7 linked regions of the Homo sapiens genome follow. The gene in region 2 interacts genetically with the main gene of each other region. Each region holds a gene or a part of one and is shown on either strand. Other genes may lie near its edges.

Region 1 (3,500 bases), on a different chromosome or scaffold from region 2:
ATCTTCCTTTCTCTATGGCCTTTCTTCACCCATCACTATCATAACTATAGCTTTCGCTCCTGGAAGAAAACTGATAATAAAGCCGAGTAAGAGAAGGGGCATTCTCTATAGGCCAGGATGGATCTGGACAGGGCGTAGTGCCACTGAGGATACTGTTCCCACATTTGAACAGCTGGCCTAAGGAGAACCGTGCTGCAGAAGAGTCCAGTGCGGAGGCCATTCAGTTGTGCCTTTGAGAGATGCTGCTGCTGATTTTGTATTTAGAAAGACCTCCCAAGAGCAGACCAGGAAAAATCCCCTGATGCCAGGCCACTAGATAGAGTTTCCAGGAACACCAGATCATTATAGTTCCCTTCCCCCAGACATGGAAAAACACCCAAAATGTAAGTTTCCTACCATTCTTGGAAATGATCCCTTTGAAGAGAATGATACTATTTGCTTCCAAAAATCAATGGCTATTCACAAGCAGAGTGGCTGGAGAGAGACTAAAGAATTCTTAGAGAGACTTCTCCCCCGTGCCCTGCAAAAGGGAGTCTCTCGTCGTCTCTGGTCAGAGGTGCAGAGTGCCTTCCAGGACCCCACCCACAGAAACGTGCAGATGGAGTTGGCCTAAGCAGCGGGAGGGCGCCTACCTGTGTAGCCAGCTAGGGCAGCAGCAGGAATGACAGGCTTGTCCTTATTGAGGTCAGCACGGTCCCGCACATAGTCCTTGAAGGTGCCCTTGGGCTTGTGGTTGGGCAGGGCAGCCGGATAGTCCTCTGAGTCGAAGCTGTCATAGGAGGGAACACGCTGCAGGCTGTTGAAAGATGACTGGCTGCTCCAGGACTGGGTGAGGCGATCACAACTATCGTAGCTCTCTATGCTTTCAAAAGAGTCCTGGCCCCCGAGTTTACCTGGAGGTAAAGGAGGAGGTAGGAAGAGGACAGGGGGAGGAGGGAGTGGGAAAAAAAAAAAACTGTAAAAACCCTCTTATGGAGGACAGATTGCTAATCAGATCTGCAGGAAGGACGGAAGAAGGGAGAGGCGAGTGGGAACAGAAGCTTCAGGGGTCATGGGTTTACTCTGAGGAAAGGGGCTGCACTAGGCCACCATCCGAGGGTCCACGGCCACTCTGCTGCCTGGTTTGAGAACTCCAAGTACAGAGATTCAGAGTCAAACGTTGCTCACATCTGTCGGAGTAGCGTTTGGGTCCTCAAGAGTTCTAAAGCCAGAAATCTAGAAGCTGAGGATCACACATGTTATGATATGATTTCTGGCTGATGTCGTAGGCCCAATGAATAAATGAAGAAATCAGAGCAATGTCAGGCTGAATTCCCCACTCCAGCTCAAGCCAATGAGATGACTTCAAAAGGCCCAGTTTGGAAAACATTTTGGTCATAAGAAAAAAGAATCCCATTAGACTAAGAGCAGATTAGCCTGTTTTGACCTTGGAACTAAGTGCTATTTTTTAGCATTTTTCCCAAATACTATTTTAATATGAAATACATGTACTGACCCTATGCCTTTTCAAATAGAGTAAGATGGTGTAAGATGCTTTTCCCAAGAGATTTTTTAAAATCACACACACTATCACTCTTCTAAACAGAAAACCATATTCTTTATCCTCTCCAAGTAAAATTATGTACTTGAAATTTAAACTTCATTGGAAAAGTGTAGGCAATATTTAAAAGGTTTATTAAAGAGTTAAGGTCCACAGCAGTGTCAGAAATCCTTTACTGTGTGAGTTGCTTAAGGCATTCTTAACTGACCACAAGATCATGCAAGTTCATTAATTTCCCAAACCAGGTTATAAACAGCTGCTATGATTGCACAATAGCTCCTGGAGAAATTTCCATTGGCAAAAATGCCACTAAAAAGGAGGCTAGCAAAAAAAAAAAAAAAATAGTTTTGGAGGAAAACAAATGAATCTAAGAGCGAAAAAGGCTCGCAGGAATGGTTTTTATATGCAACTTTCAGATACTTTTCAAGTAACCTAAGTTAAATCATAGGAGACTAGATGGTCACCTCAATTCAGCACAGGCCAAAAGGCAAAGGGATGTGACAAATGTTTACGGAGAAATATCCGTAAGTCAACTCTTAATTGTTCAGGGGTGGTTGATCTATAAATTTCAAATCCCAGAATAAGGCTGACTTATACAACTTCATATTAGTGTGCCTCCAGTGTATTTTTCCCTCCATGACAGCGGAGATTGGTTAAAACAATAAACATCAAACATGAACAGATGCCCAAACCTAAATTAAATATATAGGAAAATATGTTGCTCCCAACATTGTTTAAAGATCCGGATAAAATGTATTCGGTTGAGTGTGTACTTTTTGTAAAATCCACTGCTGTGGGTTTTCTCTACATCCTGACCCCCTCTGGAACTGCTTTAAACAGAAAGGTGGTGTCATCCGTTTCATCTCATTCCTTCCTCCACTCATCCATTCAGAGGAGGGTAATCTCTGGAAAGCAAACTGAAGAGCTTCATGGAGTTATCAGCCCTGCCCACCCAGTCCACTAGCAAAAGGGCACCTCTTCATTCTTACTAAAAATGAATATATATTTCTTTATAATTCTTAAAAATTCTTTCCCATTTACCCACCAGAAAAGTCATCTTTTTCACCTTTTTAGAGATCATTTAATTTTCTTTCAAGAAATTCACACTAAATGATTTAAGAAAACAGCCTACAACCAGAATGTCAAAGCCTTGTTTTAGCAGAACAGGAAATTCTGTGGCGTCTCATAAAAAGGTATTTGTTCATACCAGCTACTGATCTTCATGGTCACTTATTTTCTCTTTGAGACAAACATACCAAAAGCCTAAGAAGGAGAATTTATATTTTCATCAACACCGCACCAAGTCGATAGTATTTATGCTAAAGTCTCTCTGAAATGATTCCATTTCTATCAGCCAATTTTATACTTGGAGAAAAAGGACATCAGAATTTTCACAAGCAAGATAGTAGAGTTTCCAAGGAGTCCCACTAAGCAAGGGGACTAAACCAAGCCAGAACCAGTCTCTGGCAACCCCCCAAACATGAGGCAAATGCAACCCTGTTGAGAGTTGTGGTTTACAGCGGTAGGCAGCTTTCATTTTAGCTCGATTTCACAACCCTGGTGCTGGGAACCTTCATTTACGGGTATTTTCTCCAAAAATGGGTAGAATCCAACTGGATTAGATACTCAGTTATGCTGCTGCGCTCATGTAGGGAAACCTGTGTTCTCTAAACTGTCCACTAGCCAGCCTTTCTGAGAAGGGCCTCGGCGAGCTCCTTCCAAAGCTATCTGAGTCCACCAAACAGACCTCAGAGCACTCAAAACAGAAGATGCGGCAGCACCCAGCCACCCACTGAGTAGACTCGTACAAAGACAGTCCTTAGGGCCCAAATAAGTGGGGCATAGAAGCACTCTGTACGCTGTAATGCAGCCCGTGAATACTGTACTATGGTTAGTATAAATAACAATCAGCTAACAGTAATGCTTTCGGTCTAGACCAATCACAGCATCTCAGAATCAA
Region 2 (3,500 bases):
CTTCGTTGCAAATCAAAAAAACAAAAACAACCCCCAAACCATCTACCACTGCTTTCCTTCTGATATATTTAGCAGTAAAGTTAAAAACAGTTAACAATGAACACATACTACACAGAAGCAAGCATAGTCCTAAGCATCTGATAAAGAGAATTCTCATTTATTCCTAACCACAATCCTGTAAGGTGGGTAAGTAAGGTGGATTCCTATAAGGTGCGCACCCACCTTACAGGGCTGTGGTTAGGAATAAATGTGAGGAGGTTGAGCCAGGTTAAGTATTTGGCCCAAAGTTCACAGTTAATAAATACAAGCCTGGGCTATGAACTCTAGCAGTCTGACTCCAATACTCATTCTCTTAGCTACTCTCTTACTCTTTTCAGTACTTTTAGTTTTACTCTCTCTCTCTCAACAAAATTACTTCTAGGGCCAGGTGCTATGGCTCACGCCTGTAATCCCAGCACTTTGGGAGGCTGAGGTGGGCGGATCACGAGGTCAGTGTATGGAGACCATCCTTGCTAACACGGTGAAACCCCGTCTCTACTAAAAATACAAAAAATTAGCCGGGTGTGGTGGCGGGCGCCTGTAGTCCCAGCTACTCGGGAGGCTGAGGCAGGAGAATGGCTTGAACCCGGGAGGCGGAGCTTGCAGTGACCCGAGATCGCGCCACTGCACTCCAGCCTGGGCGACAGAGCGAGACTCCGTCTCAAAAAAAACAATCACTTCTAATTGCTTTGGGACATTTATAAAAAAGAATCTAGATCTAAAAACAAATTATATCCAAATTGCTCAGAAGAGGCTTAACACCTCAATTATTATTTATCCTCTTAAGCGCTTCTGGGAAAGTGAGCAGTAATTTCCCATGAAAATTTCAAAATGAAACTACCGTCTATTAAGCGAAAAAAAATCACCTGCGAAGTTCAATGTTAAAAAATTTTTTAGCAGGGAGGGGAGAGGGATAGCATTAGGAGATATACCTAATGCTAAATGACGAGTTAATGGGTGCAGCACACCAACATGGCACATGTATACATATGTGACAAACCTGCACGTTGTGCACATGTATCCTAAAACTTAAAAGTATTAAAAAAAAAAAAAATTTTTAGCTGGGCGCGGTGGCTCACGCCTGTAATCCCAGCACTTTGGGAGGCAGAGATGGGAGGTTCACAAGGTCAGGAGATCGAGACCATCATGGCCAACATGGTGAAACCCCGTCTCTACTAAAAATACAAAAAATTAGCTGGGCATGGTGGCAGGCGCCTGTAGTCCCAGCTACAAAGCGAGACTCTGCCTCAAAAAAAAAAGAAAAATTTTAGACTTGGTATAATTGGTTTCATTTGCCCATTAATTTTACTGCTTGCCTCACTTAAAAAAATATTCAACTTTAGAAATCTTCAAAGAAGGAAACCCTAAAATCTGGACAAACATAAAACTAGCATCTTTTACTTTTCCATTAATTGCTGGGTATATGAATTGGCAGAATAACTCTCAAATTGTTTTTGTAAATATACCAGGAAAAAGTATTTTACACTCCCACTTGTATCTGCAACACTCTTCCTACTCTTTTTCTCTTTCCTATTTACCACTTAATGTCCCTACAAATACCACTTTGCATTAATTTTCAACTGTTTCCATTTTTTTGTTTTTATTAAATAAAGAAGAGAGAGAAAAGCAAAGAAAAACACAAAATAATGCCAAAAGGCCACCAAGGCAGAAACCCTTTCCTCCCTCCTCCCTATTATCCATTCACTGGACATGCCAATACAATTCCAACCTCTGCTATAGAAGATGAACTCCTGCTGGAATAAGACCCCCATATTGTAACGCATTCAAGATTTACAACTTAAAAGTCACTTTATCTCACTATCAACCAGAGACAACCTTCTTGAAGTCCTATAAATGAACTTACAAGGCCTTGAGAATAATTGCCAGAAAAACTTAAAGCACTTTAGTAAAATGTTTTGCAATTTAATACTGAGGAGAGAAATGCCTCACTAAATCAGGAGCTATATCTGCAAGACTCCAGAAGCAAACTCTTATGTAAACATTCAAGCCAAAATAAAATAAAACATAGCATATCACAAGTTACAGAGCTGGAAAATAAATGGTCTTGATCAAAATGTTTTGGTTAGGATGACGAACCACTAACACAATGGCATTTTAAGAAAATAGAGCTGACAGCCGGGCATGGTGGCTCACGCCTGTATTCCCAGCACTTTGGGAGGCTGAGGCGGGTGGATCACCTGAGGTCAGGAGTTCGAGACCAGCCTGGCCAAAATGGTGAAATACTGTCTCCACTAAAAAATACAAAACTTAGCTGGGCATGGTTGTGGACACCTGCAATCCCAGCTACTGAGGAGGGTGAAGCAGAGAATCGCTTGAACCTGGGAGGTTGAGATTGCAGTGAGCCAAGATCGAGCTACTGCACTCCAGCCTGGGCAACGAGAGCAAACCTCTGTCTCAAAAAAAAAAAAAAAAAAAAAAAGTAGAGCTGACATTTTAAAAAGCCTTACCACTTCTCCACTGTGTACATTAATCTACTGGTCAAAAAGCAGGTATACTTTACACACTATCTGCCCTGTGTCTTTGAAATGGGGGAAAAACTCAAAAAACAAAAAAGCACAAAACCCAGGGCCACAAAACTGTACCAAGACCAGAAGGATCTTTACCCTACTTAATTATATGCCAGATCCTAAAATCCTATCTTTCCAGGTGCTTTTTAAGTGCATACGGCATTAAGCGTTTACCAAGCAGTGACAAAACGTGTTCACTGAGTAATGAAGACAACAGATGACCCTCATCATTTCCATCACTCAAGATGATCAGAAACAGCTCCAAAAGATATTTCCAGGATTTGCCTAACATTAACTTTTCCAGTCTTTTGGTCATTTTTACAAAAAAAGTTTACAAGTGGCTTTCATAATCTTTTTTTTTTGGAGGGAGAGGGAGAACAAAATGTCATTTCTCAAATGATTTGTTTTACCCTAACCATACCAAATGAAATAAAAATTTCAATGGATCAAATGCAAATACTGAAACAGGAACATAAAGGTGTGAAGGCTACAAATAAGTCTTCTCTTCCCCATCCCAACACGTAAAAGTTGAGTTTAACCTAAGTTATTTGAATCAACCTGGAAATTTTTTAGGAGAATATCTGAGTATTAAACAGCAATTCAGAGGTTGAGATTTAAGTAATAATTTGATTTGTAACACTTTAGCATGTCATCCCATTGGATTCCAGTTTTCTTTCCTTTAAAGCTGACATTAGAACGCTCTTGGTGGATATATTTACATCACGAAATTTGCAAGCCTAAATCACTTTTTTTAAAAAAGTTTTAGGTGCTAGAATTTCGGGCTTATTTCAACCAGTTCTAGACAAAAACCATAATATCAAGAAATAATTTTCTTTCACATTTATAAAATACCCAAGTGACAACTCAAAAATCAAAAGTTACAAGTTTGAAACTTAAAAGTTTTAAGAGGTGATGTGCCTCCAATAAAAGTTA
Region 3 (3,500 bases), on a different chromosome or scaffold from region 2:
TCCAGTGATGGAGGTAGAAGGCTTTACTGAAGCAGAAGTTGGTCTAAAATAGCCTATCATACTCTGCTGATTCTTCTTCCCTACTATGGAAATCAGCCAAAGTTTGATGTTTATAGAACTCTTTTCTCCTCTAACCAAAATAAAGTGTTTACTGTTCACCAACTGGTTCCATTCTTCCACTTTTAACACAGTTCTGCAGATGTTCCCAAACCCATGCCTTGGTGCTGTCTTCCCAAAATCAGAGCTAACAGTTGACCTGCTCAACCTGGACTTCCTTTTTTTTTTTTTTTTTTTTTAAGATGGAGTCTCACTCTATCGCCCAGGCTGGAGTGCAATGGCATGATCTCGGCTCACCGCAACCTCTGCCTCCTGGGTTCAAGCGATTCTCCCTCCTCAGCCTTCCTAGTAGCTGGAATTACTGGTGCATGCCACCATGCCTGGCTAGTTTTTGTATTTTCAGTAGAGATGGGGTTTCATCATGTTGGCCAGGCTGGTCTCGAACTCCTGACCTCAGGTGATCCTCCCACCTCGGCCTCCCAAAGTGCTGGGATTACAGGCATGGACCACCGCACCCAGCCTCATCCTGGACTTCTGACCAGATCACTCAATCACTAACCTCTGTTTCCCCTTTATATAAATACATGGTAGTATATCTAGCTTCCTGCATTTTGATTTTATGAAAATGTGAAAATAAATGTCCCAATACTATGATACCCTTCAAGTATTTCCTAGAATGCTGGAGAACTGTCCTTAACCCTTTGAGATCAGTGTGGCAGTGTAGCACTTCTCAGACTTTCAATGTGCGTGCACATCACCTGGGAAATCTTGTTAAAAATGCAGATTCTGATTCAGAGGCTTGGGAGTAGGGCCCAGGTTCTGCCTTTTTGACCGGCTCCCAGGTGAGGGACGTACTCCTGTTCTATGGACCACACTTAGAGTAGCAAGATTCTAGGCCCTGCTCTGCCCTGAAACTATCTTCTGTTCAACTCTGCCTGCGGCATCTTTTAAAAAGCTACCGAGGCTGATTTGAAACAGTTTATTTAGCTAGGCTCTCTGGAAGGATGGTGTGTGTAGTACAGTTATTACTGATGCAGCTGTTTCTATTCAGCTGTAATGAAACACGATTTTTCTATAAAACAGTTACAGATCACCCACTCATTTCCTAGGAATCTTTGCCCAGAGACTCAGCCTCCAGTCAGAGGAGGCACCACTCATCTCTGGGGCGGGTGGGATTTTACCAAGGAAGAGTCAGGTCGTTCTGTTTTCCTGTGACATGAACAACTGGCTTCAGGCATGGATGGAGAGGGTGTTAGAAGGAGAGTCTTATTTGCTGAACAGACATGAAACCCTAGTTAGGGGAGTCTCCCTCTGGGTTTCCTTCCAGTGCCCCCGCCCCTGACCTCCACAGTGCTAACCGCTTTTCCCCTTTGGGTAGATGATCTCCATAGGACACACAGACCAGTTGCTGACTCTTGCCTTTTCTCTCCTTTGGGTCTGCAGGTTGCTCTGGAAATGCTGCTACTGCGGAAGCCTGTCAGGTTAAAATGTCATCCTTTAGCAAATTACCACTATGCCGGTAGGTTGCCAGGAGCCCTGTGTCCTGTTGCCTCCTGACGACGGGCTGCTTGCATGTTCGGTTGTGTCACTTTCTAGCAATGGATAACACCGGTTCTGTCCTAATCACCACTTGTGATCTCAAGGCCTCCTAGGGCAGAGCTATGTCTGTTGCTTTGGCTCTGTTGGCATTTGTCTGTTGGCATAAGCTCCTGCCCCTTGTGGGTGTGCCAAGACCTGGGTGACAGTGGACAGTGCCTGCACGTGTGGCAAGGAGACGAGTGCATGAGACCAGAGAGAGCCACAGAAGGTACAATCAGCAGCCCCCTGCTTTTGGAATCAGTAGCCATGGGTTTAGATTCTACCGCACCCCTTGGCCAAGTCCCATGGTCTTCTGCAGCCTGGGTTTTCTCACCTGTAAAATGAGACTTGTATTCCATCCCTCGTAGTGTTTTTGTGAGATTAGAGATGGTATATGTAGCCCAATGCCTGGCACATCCTAGTAGCATTTATTACTCATGTATCCAACAATTATTTTTTGAACACTTACTGTGTATTAGGGACTTGCTAAACACTGAGATGCATCAGTGACTATGACAGACATGGGCAGAGTCCTACGTCGTGCAGCTCAGAGGCTCTGAGGAGGAGGCAGTTATTAAATAATGGATCACACTGACAGGAAAGTCTTCATACACGCAGGGTTTTGTATGTGAATTAATGACAATACCACAATAAGAGGGAAGTAGAAGACACCTATGAGATTTAAATGGACTGAGAATTGTGAAAAGTGAAGGAAATAGGTCGGAGAGCCTAAGAAGTGACCAGTGACACTGAGGTCAACATTTTCATTTCCATGCACTAACTGTTCCTTCTGAGGGTCTCCACAAACCTAAGTTGGTTCTTTATTTTGGAGGGGGCTGAATTTTCAGTGCCTCTTGATTTTTAATCACTTGAGGGTTTCTTTGGTGCTCTGGGCAGACCCTGCCTAGGCAGGTGCCAAATATGTGGGCTTGGGGACCTAGCTATACGTTTTCCAATCTTTAGTCCGGGCAGCCCAGTGAGGGCTTCTTTACAAATATTGGCTTGCTTTCTCCACCAACATTTGCCTCACCTACTGTGCTCCTCCTCTTTCATGAACGAGCCTTCCTGCCTGTCATCACAAGGCAGACCTCAAAGCCCCTCTTCCAAGCACAGTAAGCCCAAGATGTCTGCCTGTAGGTCACTCCTGGAACTAGGCCAATACAGAGTGGACACATGGAATAAGAAATTCATCACTTCTCCGGTGGCCTAAAGGAGCCAGCTTCTTAATATTTTCTCCATCATTTCCTGCTTGGTGTCTGTCCCAAGTGTGGGTAAAAAGATGTAGGAGTTCTCCCTAATCTGCCATGGAAACAGCTCAGTCCTCTCTCTTAATTTCCAGCATCATCTGCTGCTCATTGAACCCTGAGAGGCTGTCCAGCCTCCTGGAGGCTGTCTCAAGCTTCTTTGCATGATGGTGGGACAGTGGGTTGGCTAAAAGGAGGTTCCTAACCATGTGCTGTGAGAAACTGCTGCCCTCAGCCCTCAGAGTGGCTAGGGTCGCCAGAGCCTCTGGGCTGGTTAGCTCTAGCTGTGAGCAGCGTCATCTGGGATACAGCTCTCCTCTGGTTCTTCCAAGTGTACCAAACAAGTATCATTTTATGTGTATCATGACATTAAAAAGGTCAGAAAGCTATGTACTAGGAGCGCCACACACCCCAGTCAAAACAAAATAAAAACACTAAAATATTACCAAAAACTTTGAAACAAGAGGGCCCTAAACTCTGCAACAATTAATTGATCTCTTGAGGTTAGGGGTTTCTAGCTAATCCCTTGCCTGTCCCCTGTCCCCTTCCCCAGCAGGCAGACCAGGAAGGACTCTGCTGTTTTCTGGAATCATTTCAATCCTTGGAGGCAAAAGAGATAGA
Region 4 (3,500 bases), on a different chromosome or scaffold from region 2:
GAATTAGAATACCAAAAAGAAATTTGGAAAAGTAAACCAGAGAACTTTAGTCATCACTAGGTTTTTCTGAAGGTGGGACGTGATCACTTACCTGAATGACTACATATTGCACTCAGTTGGTTGCTGGGCTGGAAACCCAGAATTTCAATACAGACACAATAAAGGCAGTTATCATCTGTATGTTCCTGTAGTCCAGTGTCTTCTGTACTTTCTAAAAACAGAGAGGCATCTGAATGGATTGAATTCATTATTTCCGTAAGACTCATCTGCTGTCGTAGCAAGTGAAAAGAATTTTTTACAAGACCTCCAGTTCCAGATGGAAGACCTGTGCATAAGTAAATATAAAACATAATCCAATAAAGATAATACTTTTCAAGGTACCTTAAATTATGTGAAATTTTAAAGAAAGCTTAAGCACATTTTATGACTCAAAATCTAACTGGAAAGAAAAAAAGAATAATTTGCTTTAAGTTATAAAAATAAGGAAAGCCAGCAGATGTTTATTATTTTAATATATAGTGTTTTAAATACAAAATGGAAAATTGAGATTATATAATACATCATTTCAATTATCGTCAATATTTGCCTAAAGATATGTAATAATTCTAAGTATAAAGAGGCATTTGTTTAAAAAGTCATTAAGAATATAAAGCTATAAAACCTGTGGCTTATATTTACATATTAAAATATAACAGTTCAAAACAAAGACCGTGTATTTTATAAGTACATTTCTTTCTCCTTACTCTAAACAAACAGCTATTTCCTGGATCTATGAGGATTAGTGTTATACATTGTTCATGTGCTACTTTTAAAAAACAGAAACAACTAATTTGGTTTCTATTTCCTTGAAAGGTTGAGTACTTCACTGAAAACACTGTTAAGTCCCTCACACATACACAAAAATGTGGTTTAATTTTAAGCTGACTTTAACAATTGTTTTGGTATAATTTTAAAGTTGATCCAAAAGTGAGTCTTCCTAAATTTTTAGTGTTATCCTACTAGAAAGAACTAAGAGTTTTCTTTTTAATATAAAGAGGCATCTCACAAGTACAATGCACAATGCATTACCTCCTGCATCATGGGCAAATGCTCTTGCACCTCGATCATCATGTGGTGGTATGTTTTTTGTCTGAAAATAGGGAATATCCTTTACCTAAAAAAAGATATAAACCATGGTAAGTCCTGCTATAAAAATAAGCCCACTTTATGAAAATTAGCAAAATTAAACAAAATAAAATTAAAATAGAATTACCATAGCATATGAACCTATAATCAAGTTTACTGAAGGTTCAACTACCAAAACTTAACAAAATAACCCAAAAAGTCCTTATTATATTATTAGTGACTAAATGGACATTAATTATTTTAGCGTTTATCTAAAATGTCTTTCAACTTCTAAGAAAATGTGTTCTTTAGTACTATATACCATCTAGAGATCTGTGGGTATCTCCTGGGATTAGGGTCACCTTATATTACTGGGTACCACATATGGCTGGCTACCTTTTATGGGATAAATAGGAATGAGGATTTAAAAATGAGGTATAAGTTAAATGTGACTAAAAAACAAGTTAGAAATTTCATAAATTTCTACAGAGAATATATGGATAAAGAAATCAAATGAGATACTGATTTAATATGGGAAGAGAGGGAAGGATAATGTTCTAAGGACTAAATAAAAGAGTACAGAGTAGTTGAAAAGGGCAAAATAATTTTAATCTTAAAGTTTCTTTAAACAAAACGGTCTTAAAAATCATGCTGCCCCAAACTGGTGCCCACCCTAAATTATGATTTCTAGTAAGCAGTTACAGCATATGAAAAAATAGGAAACCAACTCATAGGAAAACAATAAAATGTATGATAATACCTGGAATATATCATTTATATCCACCGGGAGAGCAAGACCAATGTAATCATCTGAACCCCCATATGTGGCACTGGACACCATGGACCGCACTGAGGAAGATCGTTGCAGGGTATTTTGATTAATAGGACTCAATAAATCTTCTTTATCTAATGATGCATAACTTAAGGCTTTCATGAACCTATAAAACCATAAAGAAACCACTTGCATTAGTTTCTTGATCTGTAATTTTAATCATATGAAGAAATAACATATATTCCTACCTTCATAAAAGACAAGTAGCTAGTCATGTATTAAGCAGTGTCATCTTGTTTACTGGCAACACATAAACACTTTAAAATATTAGCTGTTATAGACCGCTATGTAAAAGGTCACCAGTAATGTTGACTGTTACCAAAAACAACTGTTATGGTCTCTCAGGTAAAGGTGAAAAGGTGGGCAATTAGAATAACTTTCAACATCTAGAAGTAAAAAAAGAAACTGACCTCAGTAGTCAGAGCATGGTCCAAGGACTATCTTCATAATCACTTGAGACTACTAGATTTGGCATTTATGTAACTAAGGATATGTGTATCAACTCTATTTAATATTATATTTATAAAAAATGAGATCAATTACATATCATTATTTGTGTGATAATTACCTTAATGCCTTCATTATCAACATAAGATTTATGTAGCACACAAGACAGACACAAGAGCAAAATGGTCATTTATGACGAGATATCCTTGTAAAAAGCACTGATATTTCCACAATGTACTGATATTTCCACAATGTACTCCTTACTACTAGAGATTCCATAACAAATATGATACACTGATATTTCCATAAGATACATGTTTCTCATACAGATTCTTACTTATGCAACAGACATGCTAAAATATTTACTTGGTATCTGCTGTATATATACAAGGCACTATGCAAGGTTCCACATTTATATACATTTATATGAAGATATTTTTGTTTGGAAAACCAAGTCTTTAAAATGTACGAATGCAGCCTAATATTAAATCAAATAATTATTTTGTAAAACACACAAAAGAAATGCTTTCTAAATAGTAGCTATTAACATAGCAAAAACCATGCTCCTAATTTCCACCCAAAAAACACTCTTTCAAACTGTAATCTGTTACATTTCTTTGGTTCCCATAAAACTCTTCAAGGATTACTGGAGTGGGAGGAAAACAATTATTGGATTATTCCCCTTCCCAATTCCTATTTCAACCAGTATAGGTCCCTTTCTATCTATTCTACCTATTGGGTTTCCACAGAAATCTTTATGTGAAAAAATAATTTCTCTGCTTAAAAAACAACAATACAAAAGTTTACAACCACTGATCTAGTGCAATCTCCACCAGATGAGGTAACTGAGGCTTAGGAATGTTCAAAATTCATGAACTTTACTGCATAGATTTGTAACAGTGAGCTGTTGAGAACTTTCCCTGGCTTTGTCCTGGACAAGGTTGCCAAAGCTAGTGAGTTCCAGATAGATGAGACATTGCTGCATAATTTCTTAAATCCTGTAAGGGTACACAATTCATTGTCTGCTACCAAGAAACCCTCTATTAAATGTGTTAAGCATTATTGAAACAAAACTGCTTAATGTTATTAAGAATAATGTAAGGGCTAGATGGATTAC
Region 5 (3,500 bases), on a different chromosome or scaffold from region 2:
AAAAAAATTATTTTCTGGCTAAAAAGGGCTATTTCAAAAGCAATTTCTCAGAATCAAATTTGAAAGATAATCATAAACTCTTAGAAGAGTAAATCTGCCTTTTCTACCATTTCCTTCTTCCTCAAATACCTGATGAATGAATCCCATTTAAAACGTTAAAAAGAACACACTCCTGCCTCTAGTGAGCTTACAAAATACTCACAGTAAAACTAATCCTAAGCCTGTTTAAGCCTTTAAAAGAAAAGGGTAATCTAGATAGCGAAACATCATGTTTTAAAAACTGTTAATGTCCTTTATATGTAACCCAAATATTTTTCTCTTACCTTTCCTGTGGTCTGTCCATAAAGCCCAAATATCTCACGGAGTTTTTCTTCACTGATTGCATCTGTTCTGTCAATTTTGTTACCCAAGATAAGGATTGGCACATTGGATATTGTTTCATCAGTCATTAAAGCCTAAAGATTGAAAAAAAAGAAAAAAAGAAAAAAAAGAATTAAGTGAGGAATCTACAAAAGCCCACCAGATAATGAAAATTCTGACTTCCACTAATCTTTTAAGGCATTAATGTAAAGTGAAAATCTGATCAACTTTATACCTGAGTGATTAAAGATTCACCTTGACATTACATAACACCCATGACATTAAGTAAAAATCTCCTAAGTGCCTCGAAACAGTTGCAACTTTATTCTATTTATTTACAAGGCAGCAGAACTGCCCCAATATTAACTTTTGAGCTAATCTGCTCAGCCACAAACTATCCTCAGGATGTCCCTCAGCAAAGTCCTATAAGAATGAATGCTCTGGCTACAGAGCCTCAAAGATGACTACAGGAATTCCCCAAGTATTCACCAAGTCCCATTGTGTGCGAAGAACTCTCTCAGGCATTGAGAGGAATAAAGTAGGAAGGGTAACTATCTCAGGCACTGAGGATACAAAAGGAAGCACATTCCTGTCCTCAAAAAAATCCTCACTCTATGTTCACATTATGTTTTTTTTCTTTTTTCTTAATCTCAGCTCACTGCAACCTGTGACTTCCAGGTTCAAGCGATTCTCCCACCTCAGCCTCCTGAGTAGCTGGGACTACAGGCATGTGCTACCACGCCTGGCTAATTTTTGTATTTTTTTAGTAGAGATGGAGTTTTACCATGTTGGCCAGGCTGGTCTCAAACTCCTGCCCCTCAAGTAATCTGCCAACCTCAGCATCCCAAAATGCTGGAATTACAGGCATGAGCCACCACGCCCAGCCACATTTATGTTAACAAAGCCAAGTAAGAACACAATATAGTGGATAAGTGTCACAATGAATGGGAACTGAATATTAACATTAAGACAAGTTCAGGGAAATAAAATGGCAATTTTGGGCTTGAGCAAAGTCTTAGAAAAGATCTGGAACCTAAACAGGGCTCTAAAGGAAGGGCAGGGTTTGGATAGGTGTAAAGGAGAAGTAAGAACATAAACAACGGCTTTGCATTAGGACAATAATTCAGGAAGCCACACAGTACTGCATGGCTGGATTCAAGCATTTAGATAGACATGCAGCGACAAAGTAAATGGATGAGAAGAGATGACTCACATTAGGGGCCAGTGTGAGAAGTGAGCTGCAATATATCCTAAAAGACCACAAATCCAGAAGTTAGTGAATAAAATCTTATTTTTCAGTATAATGAATTCACAAATAGTATCTATCTGTGGTGTTCATGTAAGAGATCATGATCTAGCTTAAGGTAGAGCATTCAATGAATACTGCAGGAGGCATTTTGAAGAAAGAATTGAAGAGACCAATGTCTAAATGATTAAAAAAAAAATTTAAAAAAGACAAATGAGTCAAAACTGCCACTGATTTCAAGCCTGGGAATCTAGTTGTCACCAATAGGAAAGCTAGCGGGGAAAGCAGAGTTAAAGAGATAAAGAGGAATGTACTTTGACCATCTGGAATTCCAGGAAATGTTACACAAAATTAGAATAAGAATGTCCTTCATTCATTAAGCAACAACAAAGTACCTAATGTGTCTAATGCTTTGCTAGGTGCAGGGGTTTTGCAAAGAAATAAGACACAGTCCCTATCATGTTAGTTCATAGTCTGATGAGAGAGAACTATAAAAAAATCAATAAAGACAACAGACATTGGTAAGGTGGGAGTCTAACACAGTCTCAGAGGTCAAGGGAGGCTTACCAGAAGCAGTCATATCTGAACTCTGAGGTCTCTTATAGAACATTTTAAAATTTGCCGACAAAGCGAGGGGTTGAGGAGAGGTACAGGTGAAAAAGCCAGGCAGTAGCTACTTGTGCATATTCAAGGATGGCTAAGTTGTTTGTTTGGAATATAGTTCAAGGTAGGCAGTAAAAAGAAACAGAGGGAGGATCATGAATGATCCTATGTGCTATGCAAAAGATTTATAGATTTTATCCTGAAAATGATAGAGAACTATCAAAGGATATTAAGTAGGGCAATTAAGTCTGAGAAAGTTCCTTCTAGCATTATGGTGCATATCAGGGTCATGGTAGGATTTATATTAATTCACAGATTTGTGGACTGCATGTCCAGGTAGGTGGTGGGTGGGAAAGACAAATAGTTCCATTCTAGGAAAACAGAATCAGTAGTAGGAGTTGTCGAGAGTAGGCAGGATTAGGTATGAGATTAGAGCTCAGGAGAGGTCTAGAGGAGAGAAATGCATTTGAGAGTCACTGACATGTAGGTGCCAAATGAAGGGAGTAGATGGGACCAGCCTAGGAGAAAGTACTCTGGAGAACACCAACATTTAAGGACTAACCAGAAGAACTAGTGCTTCTCAAAGAGACAGAAGTATCAGCCAGAGAGGTAGCTCCAAAATCAAGAGTGAAAAGAGGAGTTTAAACAAAGAGAATGGAGACCATGCATGGTGGCTCATGCCTGTAATCCCAGCACCTCATGAGGCCGAGGCAGAGGATCACCTGAAGCCAGGAGACTGAGACAAGCCTGGGCAACATAATGAGACCCTGTCTCTACAAAAACACTTTTTTAAAAAAAATTAGCTGGGTGTGGTGGTGTATGCCTGTAGTCCTAGCTACTTGGGAGGCTGAGGCAGGAATATCGCTTGAGCCCAGAAGTCTGGAGGTTACAGTGAGCCGTGATTGCACCATTGGACTCCAGCCTGGGCCACAGAGGAAGATTCTGTTTAAAAAAAAAAAAAAAAAGCAAGGTAAAGACTGCGTGGCAGGCAATTCTACATGAGGCTGGAGCTATAGATGTGAGAAACATACTTAGAAATAAATTCAAGACAGGTTCAAGTTGCCAGAAACAAGAATGCAAGGAGTTATAAATCAAAGAGAAAGAAGAGATATAGGGTAAAGGAGTAGGGATAACAAAGCCAATAGTATAGAAACCATCAAGCCATGAGAAAATGCAATGTTGACAAAGGAGAAAACTTGAAGTGAGTCCTTAATAGTATCAAAGGATGTATGCAACCAAAACTGAAGACTGAGAACAGACCATGAAGGTCTGGCAAGTCATTCAGTGGGAG
Region 6 (3,500 bases), on a different chromosome or scaffold from region 2:
TATCCTTCCTATAAGTCGTCTGTTTTCCAGTAAATGTCCTCTCCCCCACCCCATTCTTCCCCTATTAAAATCGTGTAGAGGTTGGGCATGGTGGCTCATGCCTGTAATCCCATCACACTGGGAGGCCAAAGCAGAACTACTTGAGCTCAGGAGTAGGAGACCAGCCTGGGCAACACAGCGAGACTCCATTTCCACACAAAAAAATTAAAAATTAAAAAATTAGCCAGGAGTTGTGGCACATGCCTGTAGATCTAGCTTCTCAGGAGGCTGAGGCAAGAGGACTGCTTGAGCCCAGGAGTTTGACTTCAGTGAGCTATAATTAGGCATTCCACCCTGGGCTACAGAGTGAGAACGTGTCTCAAAAACAAAAAGGAAAAAGTGAGCATGATAGTCACCCAAGTAATGTTCCAACATATTCAAAATTAAAACAATCAAATCAACTGTGGTTTCAAACAAAATGTAGCATATTGTTTAATGTTTTAAAATTGAATTATATTGCTTTTGATTTTTTTTTGAGACAGAGTCTCGCTCTGTTGCCCAAGCTAAAGTGCAGTGGTGCGATCTCGGCTCACTGCAACCTCCGCCTCCTGGGTTCAGGCGATTCTCCTGCCTCATTCAGCCTCTCGAGTAGCTAGGATTACAGGTGTGCACCACCACGCTGGCTAATTTTGTATTTTTAGTAGAGACGGGATTTCACCATGTTGGCCAGGCTGTTCTTGAACTTCTGACCTCAAGTGATCTGGCCACCTCAGCCTCCCAAAGTGCTGGGATTACAGGCGTGAGCCACCATGCCCAGCCATATGTTGATATTTTTAATGTTTGGTTTTACAATAGTACAATAGCTATAACCCTATGAAGTTTACATCTAGTTTTGTGTTTGCATATACACATTTAATAAAAATAATTTTTGCCAGGCATGTTGGCTTGATCTTGTAATCCGAGCACTTTGAAAAGCCAAGGTGGGAGCACGGCTTGACCTCAGGAGTTCAAGAATAACCTGGGTAATATAGTGAGACCTCGTCTCTACAAAAAAATAAATAATTAGCCAGTTGTGGTGGCACGTGCCTATATTCCCAGCTACTTGGGAGGCTGAGGCGGGAGGATCACTTGAACCCAAGAGATCAAGCCTGCAGTGGGCTGTGATCATGCCCCTGCACTCTAGCCTGGGCAACAGAGTGAGAACCTGTGTCAGAAGTAAAATAAATAAATAAATAATTTAACATTGGGACAGCAGAGAAATATTTAGTATCTATACATTACTCAAATTTTTAAAAACTGATTTGAGGAAACAGCATTCATGGGATTTTATGTGGAATTGAATATGGGTGATGAAGAGAGGAAAAAATCTAGGATGACTCCTAGGTTTCTGACCTGAGCAACCTGGTGGATGGCCGTGTTTATTCATTTGAACAGAAAGAGAAAAGAATAGAAATGTAGGCCAGGCACGGTGGCTCATGCCTGCAATCCCAGCACTTTAGAAAGTCAAGGTGGGAGGATCACTTGAGGCCAGGAGTTTGAGACCAGCCTGGGCAATAGCAAGTCCCTATCTCTACAAAATATAAGTTTTGGTTGTGTGTGTGTGTGTGTGTGTGTGTGTGTGTGCGTTTTTCAGAAATGAGGTCTCGCTCTGCCACCCAGGCTGAAGTGTCACAGCTCACCGCAGCCTCGACCTCCCAAGCTCAAGCGATCCTCCCACCTCCCCTCTTGAGTAGCTGGGCCTACAGGCGTGCACCATTATGCCTGGCTAATTTTTAAATTTTTTTGTAGAGATGGGGTCTCCCTAAGTTGTCCAGGCTGGTCTCGAACTCCTGGGCTCAAGGGATCTTCTTGACTCGACCTCCCAAAGTACTAAGATTACAAGCATGAGCCACTCCACCCACTTGATCAAGGATCAAGGATTACTTGAGCCCAGGAGTTCAAGGCTGCAGTGAGCTATCATTGCATCATTGCATTCCGGCCAGGGCGACAGAATGAGAGCTGTCTTTAAAAAAAAAAAAAAAAAAAAAGTCGGATGCAGTGGCTCATGCCTGTAATCCCAACACTTTGGGAGGCCGAGGTGGGTGGATCACCTGAAGTCAGAAGTTCGAGACCAGCCTGACCAACACGGTGAAACCCCGTCTCTACTAAAATACAAAAATTAGCCGGGCATGGTGGCACACGCCTATAGTCCCAGCTACTCAGAGGCTGAGGCAGGAGAATTGCTTGAACCTGGGAGGCGGAGGTTGCAATGAGCGGATATCGTGCCACTGCACTCCAGCCTGGTTGACAGAGCAAGACTCTGTCTCAAAAAAACAAAGGTGGGGAATGGCAAAGGGAAGAGAGATCGAAGAGTTATTTTAAACACACTAATTTTCAGGTGCCACCAAGAAATCTAAGTGGAGATGTCCAGTATAAAGATATTTATCTGCGCTGGGCGCGGTGGCTCAGGCCTGTAATCCCAGCACTTTGGGAGGTCAAGGCGGGCAGATCATGAGGTCAGGAGAGCAACACCATCCTAAGACGGTGAAACCCCATCTCTTCTAAAAATACAAAAAATTTGCCGGGTGTGGTGGCACATGCCGGTGGTCCCAGCTACTCCGGAGGCTGAGAAAGGAGAATCGCTTGAACCCAGGAGGCAAAGGTTGCAGTGAGCCAAGATCGTGCCACCTCACTCCAGCCTGGGCAACAGAGCAAGACTCTGTCTTAAAAAAAAAAAAAAAAAGATATTTAGCTGCAGCCAAAGTGACAGATTTCACCTTAAGATATAATTATGGGAGTCACTGATCTATGCATAAGATTTAAAACCATGGGAATTAAAGACACCCAGGGAGTATATAAGAGTAAGAAAAATAGGTCACCTTGAAGAACACCAATATTTAAGGAGGAGAGAGAAAAAAACAATCAGAAATGGAAGAAATATTGAGAATACTGCTGTTGAGAAATAGCAACCAAAAAAAAGAAAGAAAACCATAACTACCCTTCTGGTGATATCCTAGAAACCAAAGAAAGCAATTGTTGTAAAAACAAAATAACAGCCAAAGGTATCAAATGCAGCTCGGAAAATGAGAACTGAAAAATATTTTTCTATTTAATAACCAGGAAGCCATTTGTGGCCTTATTTATTTATTTATTTATTTTGAGATGAATTCTTGCTCTGTCGCCCAGGCTGCAGTGCAATGTCATGATCTCGGCTCACTGCAACCTCCACCTCTCGGGTTCAAGTGATTCTCCTGCTGAGAATCACTCAGGAGGCTGAGGCCTCCTGAGTAGCTGGGATTACAGGCGCACGCCACCACACCCGGCTAATTTTTGTATTTTTAGTAGAGACAAGGTTTCACCATGTTGGCCAGGCTGGTCTTGAACTCCGGACCTTGTGATCCACCCGCCTTGACCTCCCAAAGTGCTGGGATTACAGGCATGAGCCACCACGCCCAGCCTTGTGGCCTTATTAAGGACAATTTTGGGATGTGTGGGTAAAGAAGCTAAATTAGAAAGTTAGAGGCAAGAATGAATGCAGATGA
Region 7 (3,500 bases), on a different chromosome or scaffold from region 2:
AGTCATCAGCGAGGCTCACACCCCTTTCCTTCACACAAAAGACCCCACGGTGTCCTTGTACCTGGCCTTGGTGGTGCTGCTCAGTGTGGCCTGGGCCCCCCGCCATACGTAGATGTCTAGCCCTCGGTCCAGCAGGAAAACAAACCTGGACAAGAAGGGGCAGGAAGGAGCTGTGATGGTGCATGGGGCAATGGTCACCCCATGCTCCTGACCCCACCAAAAAAAATCCCTCACTATGGGGTTTCTGGGTAAGCCCCAGGGACCCCCCGCCAAGCTCGTGGGCAGGAATTGCTAGAGGGCCTCCTCTTCTAAGAGGCCCACACCTGCCCCCACTGGTGGGGAGGAGGCTGAGGATGAAGCACCCCCACCTCACATTGTTGGGGCTCACCTTGGGTCCAGAGAGGTCCCCTTGAGGGGCACAGGCTCCAACTTGATGTTCTTTTTCCCATACACACGATACATCCTGGGCGCAGGGCAAGAGTGGCTCAGTGTAGGCACCAAGGGCCTAACTTAGCCCCAACACCCTCCCCTCCACCCCTTGCCAGCAGACTCCAGGTCCATACCCCCCACTGCCCACACACCCTCACCTGGTGACATAGTGTGTGTCTTCCACAGTGTAGAAGCCACTGGCTGTTCCACCCTCAATGTAGGAGATGTCGTTGTCAAACACCTGTGTGTGTGAGGGTGTGGTTCTTCATCACTGAGCTGCCCCCTCCCCCACCAACCACTGCCCCTCAGGTGGGGGTACAGAGTTGCATACAGGTGAATTGAGTGCTACAAATCTATGATGCCTGTAATCCCAGCACTTCAGGAGTCTGAGGTGGGTGGATCACCTGAGGTCAGGAGTTGGAGACCAGCCTGACCAACATGGAGAAACCCTGTCTCTACTAAAAATACATAAATTAGCCAGGCGTGGTGGTGCATGCCTGTAATCCCAGCTACTCGGGAGGCTGAGGCAGGAGAATTGTTTGAACCTGGGAGGCGGAGGTTGCAGTGAGCTGAGATTGTGCCATTGTACTCCAGCCTGGGCAACAACAGCAAAACTCTGTCTTAAAACAAACAAACAAACAAACAAACAACAACAAAAAAAACAGATCTGGCTGGGCACGGTGGCTCATGCCTGTAATCTTAGTACTTTGGGAGGCCAAGGCGGGTGGATCACCTAAGGTCAGGAGTTCGAGACCAGCCTGGCCAACATGGCAAAACCCCATCACTACTAAAAAAATACAAAAATTAGCTAGGCGTGGTAGCACATGCCTGTAATCCCAGCTACTTGGGAGGCTGAGGCAGGAGAATCGCTTGAACCCTGGGGGCGGAGGTTGCAGTGAGCCAAGATTGTGCCACTGCACTCCAGCCTGGGCAACAAAGCGAGAGTCTGTCTAAAATAAAACATACACATCTGTGTCTATAAACATACACACGTCGGGGTGTTGGGATGTATGAAAAATATGGACACGTTCACCCACGTTTGTAAAGATGCCAGCAGCATGTTTAGATGCACGCATATCAGGGTACACAAGCAAGTGGGTTCATGGAAGAGTGGAAACCTGGGTGAATGTGGGTAAAAAAAACTCGGGGCGGGTGGGGTGTGTGCATAAACTCCACGTGTGTGTACATGCGAACATATGTCTAGGTGTAACCAGCTGGCGGCTAACACTGCTCAGTAATTTATTCAAGACTGGACTCTGGTCCCGCCCTTGGCCCCACCTCCTTGGCATCCAGGTGTGTCCTTGCCTCCTAATAACAGGTTTTGGCCCTGCCTTCTCACTGCTCTTGGCAACACCCCTTCCACCCTACTCTCAGCTCCCCTGTGTCAGCCCACTGGTCTAGCTCCCATGCCCAGCCTGTACCCTTATCCTTGCCCGGCTGAATTCTGCCCCGCGTTCCAGAACTCTCCTTTGCTGACCCAGGCTTTGGCCACCTTAGACCTCACCCTGCGGTCTGCCTTAGGTCCCGCACAGTATCGTTGATCCACCCCCTTTAACCCCAGCTCCCTGCCTGCCCACCTGTTCTGCCTACCTGCCTTGGGCCCACTGCCCCTGCACCAGAGTTCCCTGGGAACCCCACTCTGCCCACCCCCAATTTTAACGGGCTGGCACCTGCAGGAACTCCTCGCTCTCATCGCCCATCTCCTCCCGGACAGTGCGGCACTCAGCACCCAGGTAGTTGCGCAAGTTGACAGCGTGGATGGCAGAGCAAGCTTTCTTGTCGAGTGTGGCCTCCCCGCCAATCCAGTAGTAGATCTCCCAGTTGAGGGAGCCGCTGTCATCCAGAAAGGTCTGGAAGCCAAGGCACCGGCCACATCAGCTTTCATCCTGGTCTTCCGGCCACCCCGGAGACGCCACTCTGAACAGCACAGGCTTCCCAGCCCCAGGGGCTTTGTACTGCCCCTGTGCCTGGACCACCTCCTGCAGCCTGCCCACCTCCCACCTGGCCTCCCTGAACAAAACTCTGGAGTTGGGGACTGAGCCATCTTAGAGGAAGGTACTGGGCCACATGGCCCCTAACAGCATGCCCAGCCCTCACCTTGAGCACAATGTAGCAGTCAGCCTCGTAGAACTTGCCGTGGAAGGCTTCCTCCACCAGCACAGGCACGAAGTTCTCTATCTGCCAGATGGTCAGTCCGGGCAGCTGGCCCACGTCCTCCGTGAAGAACTCGGAGTAGTCAAGGCGGGGCTTCTCCAGGCCCTGGTCCCAACGCCGCACCTTCCCGCTGGGGGCCCGGGCATCTGCGCTCTCCTGGGGGCAGAGTCACAGAGCACGGCTTGACTCTGTGAAGCCACTCAGGCCAGTCTTTACTTGCTACCCACACCTCAGGGCCTTTGCACAGCTGTTCTTTCTGCCCAGCACCCCCCGTCCCTCTTGGCCAGGGTCAAGGCCAGGGTCGGCCTTCAGCAGAAGCTAAGGCTCCCTGCCTTGTCCCAACCCTGGCCTGGCTCACCTCCTGCTTTTTGTTCTTCTCCTGGGCAACATCTGACATGCCCTTCAGCACCTGCTTGGCCTGGTCATCCTGGGCTGAATCCTTGCGCCTCCGCAGTCGCATCTTGCGAGCCATAGGGTCCTTGGGCCCACTCCCTGCTTAGGGGAGGGGCAAACAGCTGAGCCCTCACTGGGCCTGCTGCCCCCTTGGGCATGCGACCAACCAGGGGCCAACTCCACCCACCAGGGTCCAGAAAGCTGTATGCCACCCAATTTACAGATGTGTCATTTGAGGCCTGGAGAGGAGCCCCCGTTCCCAGGCCAGACCTTTCCCCACTCACCAGCTGCAGCTGCAGCCACGGTAGCAGGAGAGGCACCCGCTAGCCGCAGCTGGTTCTGCAGCGAGAAGTCGATGTTGTACCACTCAGCGGCACGGTCTGCGGGCTTGGGCGGCATGACCAGGTTGGGGTTCTCCCGCACATCCAGGACCTGCCCCATAGGGTGAGCAGAGCCGGCACTGAGCCTGGGTCCTACCTCCCAGACACACCAATCCAGTTTCTTGCTCTTGTCTGCAGCCGCCA

The links.
Region 1: of EP300 (region 2) and ETS1, changing one enhances a phenotype caused by changing the other (phenotypic enhancement), as found in Homo sapiens cells (one study listed by BioGRID).
Region 3: of EP300 (region 2) and TRERF1, changing one enhances a phenotype caused by changing the other (phenotypic enhancement), as found in Homo sapiens cells (one study listed by BioGRID).
Region 4: changes in EP300 (region 2) and RICTOR together harm fitness less than expected from each alone (positive genetic interaction), as found in Homo sapiens cells (one large-scale study listed by BioGRID).
Region 5: changes in EP300 (region 2) and SAR1A together harm fitness less than expected from each alone (positive genetic interaction), as found in Homo sapiens cells (one large-scale study listed by BioGRID).
Region 6: changes in EP300 (region 2) and SEC24A together harm fitness less than expected from each alone (positive genetic interaction), as found in Homo sapiens cells (one large-scale study listed by BioGRID).
Region 7: of EP300 (region 2) and FLII, changing one suppresses a phenotype caused by changing the other (phenotypic suppression), as found in Homo sapiens cells (one study listed by BioGRID).

Annotation. Positions count from the first base shown.
Region 1 is NC_000011.10:128,479,559-128,483,058, forward strand, and holds part of ETS1 (protein C-ets-1), read right to left. Parts: intron 894-3,500; coding exon 633-893; intron 1-632. UniProt on the Homo sapiens protein: Transcription factor. Directly controls the expression of cytokine and chemokine genes in a wide variety of different cellular contexts. May control the differentiation, survival and proliferation of lymphoid cells.
Region 2 is NC_000022.11:41,095,592-41,099,091, reverse strand, and holds part of EP300 (histone acetyltransferase p300), read right to left. Parts: intron 1-3,500. UniProt on the Homo sapiens protein: Functions as a histone acetyltransferase and regulates transcription via chromatin remodeling. Acetylates all four core histones in nucleosomes. Histone acetylation gives an epigenetic tag for transcriptional activation.
Region 3 is NC_000006.12:42,252,927-42,256,426, reverse strand, and holds part of TRERF1 (transcriptional-regulating factor 1), read left to right. Parts: intron 1-1,500; coding exon 1,501-1,576; intron 1,577-3,500.
Region 4 is NC_000005.10:38,945,400-38,948,899, forward strand, and holds part of RICTOR (rapamycin-insensitive companion of mTOR), read right to left. Parts: intron 2,043-3,500; coding exon 1,865-2,042; intron 1,154-1,864; coding exon 1,069-1,153; intron 326-1,068; coding exon 92-325; exon of another isoform or gene 1-91. UniProt on the Homo sapiens protein: Component of the mechanistic target of rapamycin complex 2 (mTORC2), which transduces signals from growth factors to pathways involved in proliferation, cytoskeletal organization, lipogenesis and anabolic output.
Region 5 is NC_000010.11:70,153,515-70,157,014, forward strand, and holds part of SAR1A (small COPII coat GTPase SAR1A), read right to left. Parts: intron 456-3,500; coding exon 324-455; intron 1-323. UniProt on the Homo sapiens protein: Small GTPase that cycles between an active GTP-bound and an inactive GDP-bound state and mainly functions in vesicle-mediated endoplasmic reticulum (ER) to Golgi transport.
Region 6 is NC_000005.10:134,655,285-134,658,784, reverse strand, and holds part of SEC24A (protein transport protein Sec24A), read right to left. Parts: intron 1-3,500. UniProt on the Homo sapiens protein: Component of the coat protein complex II (COPII) which promotes the formation of transport vesicles from the endoplasmic reticulum (ER).
Region 7 is NC_000017.11:18,248,739-18,252,238, forward strand, and holds part of FLII (protein flightless-1 homolog), read right to left. Parts: intron 3,409-3,500; coding exon 3,261-3,408; intron 3,079-3,260; coding exon 2,942-3,078; intron 2,740-2,941; coding exon 2,527-2,739; intron 2,280-2,526; coding exon 2,100-2,279; intron 671-2,099; coding exon 588-670; intron 464-587; coding exon 389-463; intron 146-388; coding exon 62-145; intron 1-61. UniProt on the Homo sapiens protein: Is a regulator of actin polymerization, required for proper myofibril organization and regulation of the length of sarcomeric thin filaments. It also plays a role in the assembly of cardiomyocyte cell adhesion complexes.